Regions from separate parts of the Homo sapiens genome. Here region 1 is linked to region 2. Evidence: fine-mapped expression QTL. A gene starts in region 2. The other region holds a variant in brackets. All regions are shown on one strand. Distances are from middle to middle.

What was found. PIP is the estimated chance that this variant, and not a neighbour inherited with it, causes the effect.
Region 1: its variant is the best candidate, but not a certain one, in a credible set for the expression of SLC9A2 in lung (TOPMed, PIP 0.71).

The regions. Positions count from the first base shown.
Region 1 is chr2:102,587,290-102,592,672 of GRCh38, reverse strand. No RefSeq gene overlaps it. Among named protein-coding and RNA genes, the nearest start is that of SLC9A2, 30 kb to the left of the region's middle. The variant G/A (reference allele first, on the strand shown) is at 3,064.
Region 2 is chr2:102,616,610-102,621,952 of GRCh38, reverse strand. SLC9A2 (solute carrier family 9 member A2) reads right to left here and starts at 2,400. Exons shown (of 12, transcript NM_003048.6): 1 at 1,816-2,400. The coding sequence starts at 2,104. RefSeq lists a silencer at 2,683-2,792.

The DNA.
Region 1 (5,383 bases), 29 kb after region 2:
TAAGAAAGTGTATAAAGGAGGCAGTCTAGGCATCAATGAAAAGGAGTATAAAACAAGGATAGAGTTAAACATGCTAAAACAATAAATACGGATCAGATTGTTGGCAAAAGTATCTAAATATCCTATTTAGATTTGGCATGCTGATATGCACAAATAGAATTTAGCAGCATTTATGTAAAGTATCAAGCATGAACTATTTTTCTCCCCTAAATCTGATTAACTTGCATCATTTGAATCTATTCTATATTTCTAGATATTTTGCAGGCATTTCTTCAAACAAACAAATAGACAAGAACATCCTCATGAATCTTTTCCTTTGAGAAATAAACTAATATGTGTTATCATTCATCTTTCATCATTGCAACTACCTGCAGCAGGTAGTAGTCAAACCCTATCCATTATCTTCCCCTAGAGCAGTGAGTGTTTCTCAACCTAGCTTAGGAGGTCTTTTACAAATCCCCATGCCTAGGCTTTATGCCAGGCCGATTACATCAGAGTCCTGAAGGAAGTGGGGGTACAGGTAGCCATCAATATCTTCTAAAGCTCCCACAAGAGTCCAATATGCAGCTAAGATACAGCGCCATTGCTCTAGCATGTCTTCAGCTGTGGTCATCAACTTAGGCTCCAAAACTGATATTTTATGAATGATTGGAAAGTGCCTGACAAATAAAAGGTCATTTTGCTCTTTAAAAAAATTGCATGGACTGAAAGCAGGGCTGCTACTGCAGTTGGATTTGAGGAAATGGTGTAGTTGCAGGAGCTTGTACCCTTTTGAAGGCTGCCAACAATTATCTGTGGGTCATGTGAAATGAGTTTTATGTCAACAGAGTTGAAGCTGTTTTCTCTGAGTGGTTAACTACTTTTGCCTGGTTAAATAAGCAAACAAAAGTGAAATAGGGAAAAGAGCAGAGTTTGATTAGCCTTGTGTTCACCTGAGATAAGTGGCCTCCCTTTCTCTTAGGTTTAGTCTAGAACAGAAACTACCTCTCCGGCCTCCCCGGCCCTGGATTGTAATTGATAGCAGGTGCTGATTGATACAGGGACATTAATATCCACCATATTCACTGGTTCTCATCACAACGAGTATAGGTCCATGATTTGAGTTTTACAACTTCCTTCTTAAATGAAATGGCTACTCTTTTAATTGACATGAGCTTTAAGCTAGGTAAACAGTAGCTGCATGATGAGAATTGGTATAATTTAAAATATTCTTATAAAAACTTAGTTTATTGAAATCTGGTGATTATTTTTAATGACCCAAAATTGCTAAATTAGTTGACTACATTATGGACAAAGTATATAAAAAAGATAATTTACCTAAAAGAAAATAAAAATGTATAAGCAAGATGAAAATTGTTCATTTATAGTGAAAGGTTGCAAATGAAAGCAAAAATAAATGTTATTTCCTCTACTAAATTATTTTAAAAAGTATATCATGGTGCCTAATATTGGGAAATATAAAAATGAAACTAGTAAATCTACCCATTGCTGAGAAGCACATAAACTGGCAGATAATGTTTGAAAAATAATTTGACAACAGTTATAAGAGCTTTAAAACATTCAAACTCTAAGTAATAGCAACCTAGCACTATTAATATAATACTCAGTGTTGTTAATATTAATATTATAGGCTATAAGAGGAAAACATATTTTAAAAAATTATAGGACAATTTGTAAGTCAAGAAAAATTCCAGAGTGTAATATCCTTTTTAAAAATTAAAATCAGAAAATAGAACAAGAACATAGATTTATTTGAATATACATTATTTTCCAAATACTTTTGAATTCAATTATTTGGAACATAATTGAATCTAAATGTCTCACAATACATTATGCAATTATATCTACATATAAGATATTATTCAGGTATGTTGAATATGCCAAAAATATTAGTTTAATAATTTAAAATTATCAGTGAAGCAACATAGAAAAGGTTTATGCCATACATGTGATCAAGAATGAGTCCATTCAAAGCTCAGGAATAAAATCATGAGTTCCTTAAGACCTCAGGAAAGATAAAAAAAAAAAAAGTCAAGCAACGTGCAATCTTTGCTATAATAGAGGTTTATCTAATTATTGTGTGACGTAAGGTGGAGAGACAATATTGGGTATTTAGTCAGCTTTTGAAGTGAAGGAGGAACCACCTGAAACAAAATTTGGGAGGACAATATCAGCAGGCAGATATTTGTGTACAGTTGGTTAACCAGCTATAGAAAGCAGACTAATCAAAGAGAGAAATATGTGTTTGCAGAAGGCATGCTGGGGAAGTGAAAATAAATTATTTTGTTGATAAAATTATACACTCTTATCCAGCAATTCATCCATTCGTTCAATCCATCAGTCAGGATCTACTCAGCAGCTACTTTGACTACACACTTCTGGGTGTGCAATTTAGTGGCGAATAAGATCCTGTCTCTGTACTCAAGGGGCTCAAAATCCAAAGCATAAGACAGAAAAGGAGTTAAGTGTTGAATTGACGAAAGTGCTATGCAGAGAATTCATATGGGGTGGTGATGCTCCCAAACATTCATTATTGGATTTCATGACAATAGTAACCTATGAAGTAGAAATTCTGTGTTGGGACCCTTTAAATTAGTTTGGTGAGGGAGTAACAATCATGACATCAACACCCAAACCAAAAATGCACTCCTGAAATAAATTTTCCAACAGAAGAATAAGGACTAGCAGGAGGAGGAAATCACAACTTTACCAAAGAAGCGGAAACCATAGTTTTTCACTCATCAGACTTTGTTCTCCTCCAATTTTTGTCCTTTAAGATTCTGCCTGGACTTTGAGATTTAGTATAAAATCCACCTTCCCTATTCAAGATAAGACATTTCATTTAATGAAGAAATATGTGCTTGGTACCTACTACGTGTTAAGCACACTGTTAGGGCCTGGGGACACAGACGATTCTTGCTCTCTGTCCTCAAAGAGCATTGACTGTAGAGGAGGTGGCCAAAAACTATGTGATCAAAGCTGATAGTCTTGTACTTCAAAACCAAATTGGGCAATCAAGGCCAGCTTCCTGAGAGAGGTGTGATTTGAGTAAGGTTTTGAGGC[G/A]TGAATAAGAGTTCAAAAGTTAAAAGAAAGGTGTGTGGAGTGGTAAAAAAAAATTCAAAAGGAAAAGCACAATGATAACAAAGATCTCATTATTCATTATGCTGTTATACTGGATGTCATGCATTTTACATACATTAATCAAATCTTAACATCGAATCTTAGCCTTATGAAGTAGGTGTGACTCCTGTCATCATCATATGTATTTTATAGTGAACTGAGGCACAAAACTGTTCAAAATGTGGCTCTGGAGGCTAATTTTTATCACTGGAAGCTAACAAGAATATTGACCTCTCCTGGTGTTGGGCTCCTCTCTCAAACTACAGCTCATTCTATTGGCTGTGCTGTGTTGTGTTATTTTCTGTTCATGGATGTATTTTATCTCTCAACTGTACTGGAAATTTCCAGAGAGCCCCACACTGTGCTTCTTCTATGATGCATGCTGCTTTACAGATGTGCTGAGGCTTTGTGTTACCAGCCACTTCAAGAGGAAAAGTCTGGTTTTAGCAAATCAGCAATTAAAAACCAAAAAAAAAACACAACCCTTTGCAAGACATAATCCTGGTCTCTTTCAAATGTTAGAGATGAGTCTGAATACATTTATTTTTTCTTAATTATTTCATCATGTGTGCAACATACATTAAAGTCTCAAGAATATTCTTAAAATCTTTTAGGTGATTTATTGCTAGTAATAAGTTGCCTATATTTAATCCATAATTTGTTGGGCAATGTATTGCTTTTATCTTCCCAAAACTATCTCTTCCAATCTGGAATAGGTCTTTTGAGTTTTTTAAGAAGAGAAGGCCAGGCTGGTTTTGCTCTTACCTACGTGTTTGCAATGTCTCTGGAGTGAGGTGCCAGCACTTCATGATCTCCACGGCACCACCTGGTTCTACTGGTCGGTCTCCGTGGTTTTACCTCTAGGGAATTTTCAACTTTCCAGATATACAGATTCTAACCTATTTATTCTACCTCCTATGAAACCTTCTATAACACTTTAATCATACCATTGCTTTTTTAGATGTGCCTTTTTTTGTGTGAAGTGTGATAATCAAATCCACATGACAGTTTCAGATGGATCATTTTCTTAAGGGTATAAAGCTTATTCTGGGAGCATTGAAGCCTCAGCAAGGGAGAATTTGTTTCCCATGTGATTAGCACCTGCCCAAAGGACATAAATCATAACCAGGGATTAAATTAGACACCAAGGAAACAAGCACAACAGGGCTTAGCTCCTCGGGGAGGAAGCAGGGCAGGCAAGGGGAGAAACAGAGGCTGGGTCACGCAGCGCAGGTCCGGCCCAGAAAAAGAGCCTTTACACTAGAATTGGTTACAGAGTGCTGCAGTCTAAATGAAACACTCTGGTTTACCCAAGATCAAACACTTGATGTAGTTCTCAAAAATGTAGATTCCTGGGCTCCAGCACAGATCAACTAGATCACTTGAAGGAGAAAGGCGGAAGGGTGTATAGACATCTGAGCTTTTAAATTCCCCAGGTGATCCTTTTTAATTTTTTTTAATTTTTATTTTTTGTGGTTACATAGTGTATATATTTGTGGGTTACATGAGATATTTTGATACAGATGTGCAATGTGTCATAATCATATCAAGGTTAATGGAGTAGCTATCACCTCCAGCACTTATCCTTTGTGTTACAAACAATCCAGCTATACTTATTTATTTATGTATTTATTTATGTATTTATTTTGAAACAGAATCTCATTCCGTCACCCGGGTTGGAGTGCAGTGGCATGATCTCGGCTCACTGTAGCCTCCACCTCCCAGGTTCAAGTGATACTGCTGCTTCAGCCTCCTGAATAGCTAGGATTACAGGCATGTGCCACTACACCCAGCTAATTTTTGCATTTCTAGTAGAGATGGGATTTCGCCACGTTGGCCAGGCTGGTCTCGAACTCCTGGACTCAAGTGAACCGCCTGCCTCGGCCTCCCAAAGTATTGGAATTACAGGCATGAGCCACTGCGCCCGGCCCTTTTTAGCTTTTTTAAATGTACAATTTAATTATTACTGATTAAAGTCACCCTGTTGTGCTATCAAATACTCGATCGTATTCTTTCCATTGTTTTTGTATCCATTAACCATCGCTACTTCCCCCTCTCCCTCACTATCCTTCCCAGACTCTGGTAACCATCATTCTACTCTCTCCCCAGGTGAGTGATTCTTCTACCCACAATGAAGGTTGAGAATCATTAAGATAAAATGTTAGTGTAACAAGTAAGTATTATTTTAAGTGTGATTACCCTTAATCCCGAGAAAATATTTCATATGTCCAAATGTCCAGAAAAAAACTTTTTAAATCTTTCT
Region 2 (5,343 bases):
ACCCTCCTGTAAACCATCCCTTCTACCTGCTTTGCACTCCTCTCCCAATTTATGTCTTTGTTCAGTCCTCTCTGGAATGTTGCTCCCTTTTCTCTCTAACTGACCAGATCCTGGTCATCCTGGAAAATCCAGTTTAAATGTTTGCTCTGCATGAGGAAGTGTTCTCTGCTTCCCTGCAATGGCATACTATCTTTTCTGAGTTTGTCACCCTACTCAGCACTGTCCTGGGCAATAATCACACAGCGTGTACACGTCTCTCCACTCATCAGTAAGCTCCCTGAGGATGGCAGACAATGCGTCTTTTCATTCTTTATGGAAATCTGCCTCATCTCACAGGGTAAAGACGTAAAACACATGTAATGCATACATTCTTTGGACCTAACAACTTAATCGAATCATTATAACAATAGTTAATATTTCAGGATTTTTCTAAAGTCTTTAAAATATAAAGTAAAAATAATATAAAGCACCATGCTCATAACATGAAAGTTTCTGGGGCGTGGGTAATGAAGATGAGAAAATATATTCTGAGGTTTCTGCTTTCAAAATGAGAGTTAAAGGTAGTATGAAAGTGGGTAATTTTTTTTTTTTTTTTTTTTTCCCTGAGACAAGGTATCTCTCTGTGGCCCAGGCTGGAGTGCAGTGGTGCCATTCATGGCTCACTGCAACCGCAACCTCCTGAGTTTAAGCGATCCTCCTCCCTCAGGCTCCCGCCTCAGCCTCCAAGTAACTGGGAATACATATGTGCACCACAACACCAGGCTACCTAATTAATTAATTAATTGATTGATTAATTTTTGAGACAGAGTCTTGCTTTGTTGCCCAGGCTGGAGTGCAGTGGCAATCTCGGTTCAATGCAACCTCCGCCTCCTGGGTTCAAGCAATTCCCTCCCTCAGCCTCCCGAGTAGCTGGGATTACAGGCGCCCACCACCACGCCCGGCTAATTTTTTTGTATTTTTAGTAGAGACGAGGTTTCACCATGTTGATCAGTGATCCTCGTGATCCACCTTGCCTCAGCCTCCCAAAGTGCTGGGATTACAGGCGTGAATCACCTCGCCCGGCCAATTTTTTATTTTTGTACTGTTTGGTCTTGCTATGTTGCCCATGATGATCTTGAACTCCTGGCCTCAAGGGATCCTCACGTCTGGGCCTCCCAGTGTGCTGGGATTACAGGCTGGGCCATTGTCCTGGGCCCAGAGTTAATTATTTTTAAATATGCATCTCACCTCACTGGCCTCAGCCACCCCGAAGCAAAAGCTTCCTGGAGAGTGACAGCCTCAACCCAATAGAGGGAGGAGAAAGGGCGTTCCTATTGCAGCTGCAAGCACTCAGGTGTCCCTGGTCCCCTTCCATGCACCTCATTAGTCAGGCGCACAGCAGGGTCTGTGTCACTGCCAAGGCGCCTCTCTCCTGTAGCATCCAGGGTTTTAACCACATTATGCATAGCTCCGGGGTTCGTCGGCACCTCTCTCCCTGCAGGTGAGACTGGTACACTTCAATAAACAGATCTCACTCAACTTAAGCAGAGAGCTGACAAACTTGGCGTTCCGTGCGGCAGAAGTAAGCAGCAATCGCTGAGTTTGTAGAACTTACACTTGGGGCCATTTCAAGGCCAATGTTCCCTTAAGAACCAAAACGCGAAACTGCTCTTCCAAGGGTCCTTTTCAACCAGAAGAAGCTGCTCCATCTGTCGTCCCTGCCCTGATTCAAGATGAGGCGGTCACTATCTAGAGGTCAGCTGGCTGACCCGGTCACCCTCCAGGTGTCCCCCCGAGATCGCCCCCTCCCATTCCCCACAAGTCCAGTTCGCTCACCAATCTTGGCCAGGGAGGCCAGCAGGATCCAAAGGGTGATCTCGAAGGGGATCTGCACGTGGGGGTAATCCAGCGTAAACACAGGCAGCCGGCTCTCCTCGAACAGCGTCGTTCCGGGAGCCACCACGCTCGCAGGGCTAGGCGGGCTGGAACTGGTGCCCATGGCCCTCGGCGCGTTCAGCAAGGTCTCCGCCAGGGCGCCCACGGGCCCCGCCACCTGCAGGAGCAGCAGCAACAGCATCGGAGGCAGTGGCGCCCGCAGGCTCCTCCAGTTGCCCAGTGGTTCCATGGGTGCCGCCGGTTGCCGCCAAGGGGACCGGCGGTTGGCCCTCCGAGCGCTCAACGCATCGCGCCCGGGCTGCTCAGCCCGCTCCGCCCTGCCCCGTGCAGGGCAGGGCAGCGACAGCCACCCGCCGCTGCTGCGGCACCGGGTCTCTGCAACCAGAGGGCTAGGTCCTCGCTGCGAGCAGGCGCACTGCCTGGCGAGGCACGTGCAGGGCGACGAGAGGCCGCTGCGCGTACCCTCAGCAGCCCTCAGCCGCCCTCCGCCGCCGGCCGCCTGCCCATGCCGGTGCGCTGCTCTCCAGCCGCAGCGGCAGGCCCTGCCCAGGGCGGCCCGCGGGCGGGGGCGGGGCGGGCGCGGCGCCCAAGCCGCAGGGCAGGAGGACAAGGGGACCTGGCCGGCACACCGCGCACCTGCCCGAGCCCGCGGGGAACGCGGGGCCCCAGTGACCGCGGGGGCGATGGCTGCCCTCCCTTCGCGCAGGCACCGCGCGCCAAGACCCGCCACCCCCAGAGCCAGCGAACTGTGGGTGGAATCGCCGCAACGGGCGCATGGTGGCCGGAGCTGTCTCCGCCCCGGAGGCAGCGTCGGACGTCCATCCAGTGAAGGAACCAGCGCGACCCACGAGTCGCGCCCTTCCCTCCTCCCCCGCCCCCGCAGGCTCCTCCAAGGGGACACCCCGGTGCGCTGGGCGCGCGGGGAGGCGCCACAGGCTCGCGGTCCGGAGGAGAAGCCCGGGCCGGTGGAGGAGGAGTGCTGTCACCCCAGCCTGGCGCTGCGGAGGCCAAGACAAGGCATGGGATTCTCTGGACGTACAGAAAGTTTAGGAAAGCCAAATTTTGTTTCCTTTCCGAGAGTTATCAACTCGCGCACAAGGTGCTCTGAACAGGGAAACTCCCTGCGCGGAACTCAGTGTTCCCACGCCCCCACGGAATCGGAATCCTGTTCTCTCCTCTTGCCACATTGTGCTGCTTTCACCCATTTGCTACACTGTCGCTGCCACTTTTCTTCTCCCTCCCCCAGCTCACGTAAAAAAAACCAAAACATCTTTCTCCGCTTTTAGGCTTAGAGGTGTACATGTCCAAGAGCATAAGAAATATAATTATTTCATGGAAAACCAGTGATTTGCCTCGCTCAGATTGACTTGCTCCGCTAATTACAGGACAGGCTGTGGTCAGGAAAAGAAAGGAAGCGTGATTCTTCTTCTGGATCTAAAAGGGCTTTCTCATGCAGAGCCAACCTTTCCTGTCCTTCAGAGCGCCTCCTTCACTGGTTGCGATCTCACTGTTTGAGCATCTTTATCGCCAGAAACCGAAATGAGCACAAAGGGGACTAGTTGCCATTCAATTAACTGAAAGTTTTCCCTTTGATATTTATGAAATAAAATCCTTCTCTTTTCTTAATCTTTGATGTGTCAAAACACGTGGCTTCTACTATTAAACAAACACCAGGCAGTTCGACCTTCAAAGCCGTTTTTTTTTTTTTTTTCTTTCAAAGTTCTAACATAGAAAATCAGTGAGATGTCAGCAGAGGGTACAAGAAAAAAAAATCCTCCACCTGCATAGAAGAAAATAAGGAACAGTCCTCTTTGGGTCTTCAAAGTAATGGAGGGACAAGTCCAGGCTAAAAAGAGAGAAGAATTCTGGGAGATGTTACAGAGCACTACTTCATTTGATATTTCACAAAGCATCAGTTTTTCAAAAGCGCTACAGAATTGAAACTAAAGATATTATCTTGAGAAGAATCATTGGGCATCCAAAACTCAGCCTCCCCTTCTCCTTTCACTGGAAACGTTTATTAAAGGTATGTGCCTAACATACCCCTGTGAAAAGGCAGCAAATAAGAGATTTTTAAATTTTTTGAGTATCTGTCTCTACATGGGAAGCTCAATACAAGGCACTTTACTTGCATTTTTTTGTCAATCGTAAAAATCCAAAGAGGCAGATATTTTTTACCCATTTTATAAGTGAAGAAATATAGTGTAGAAATGTGTAAAAATAAACAAATAGACTTAATCAAGTTTACATATTAAGTAAGTGTCTGGATGGAATTCACACCCAGGCCTGCCCAGGCTAACACTGGTATCATCTCACCCTCTACCCCATGACTAGTTGCCCATAAACAGCACGCTATATTCTCAGCTACTTTAAAATAAGCAGTGGAGAATATTACAGGGATTGTTCAAAAAAGTTACAGCAGGATAAAGTTTTGGTAAGTGAATCAGGCAGTTCTACAAACTTAGTGACATAGTAATAGGGAGAGGGCACATTTAGACAATACTTTCTAGGAGTTTGTCACACAACACTTTTAAGAATAATTGTGTATCATGAACAAGAAAATGAATGACAAATCTGTTTCCGGGCCCTCACTGCCTGTAAACCTTATGTGGTATCACTTCAACTTTATACATCTATGCTACTGCAGTTAAAGGCTATCCACTTTTTTTTACATTTGAAAAAAAAGTCGTTTTATTTATTCTTGTAAATGGGAGGCGAAGAAATTAGTCTAAAAAGACATTCTTTTCATCTTTCCCTTAAAGCAAATTTAAAAAGAGTTAAATTATGCCCCTATGCTGAGAGCGACTTGGCCTGGCTATTTCTTCAAAGTGCCCTCTGACTAGGAGCTCAGCCGTGAAAGTGATAACACCACCCATGGGATGACTGAAGCAAGAAGCGAAACGTGTGTACACATTTAAAATCCTTTAGTGGTTTCTTAGCGACCTTTGGACGTCTCACCTGGTAGCTGAATTTCTGGACTAATTGGGGGGTCTTCTTTTATGCCCTTTGATCTCCCATAACTTTTCAGCACTTAATCATTTTGCTTTTCTCCCACTGAACATCTCTGTGAAGGTATTGGTCTGTTTAACTCATTCTTTTATCTTTAGCTCCTAGCATATTGCCCGGAGACAGTGAGTACCCGCTAAATATGTGTTGGACGAATAAATGTATGAATTGACGGTGAAATCAACAACTCTCACACACTACGGATCTGAGCTGCAGGGCTTTCTCACAGTTAGGCCAGTTGCAGGATGGACATGAATTCTCCTAGTTTTACATGAAATGTTTTCTCCAGTGATCCCTCATTCACATTTTGGCATCTCTCATGTCTTTTTTCCCCCTTCTACCCAAATGATGTGTGAATTTAATCACATTACAAGATTTCTAAATATTTTTAGAAATTATAGTTACCTGATTTCAGATTGACTTTCACATAGCATAGAAATATTTACTAGGAATTTATGAACC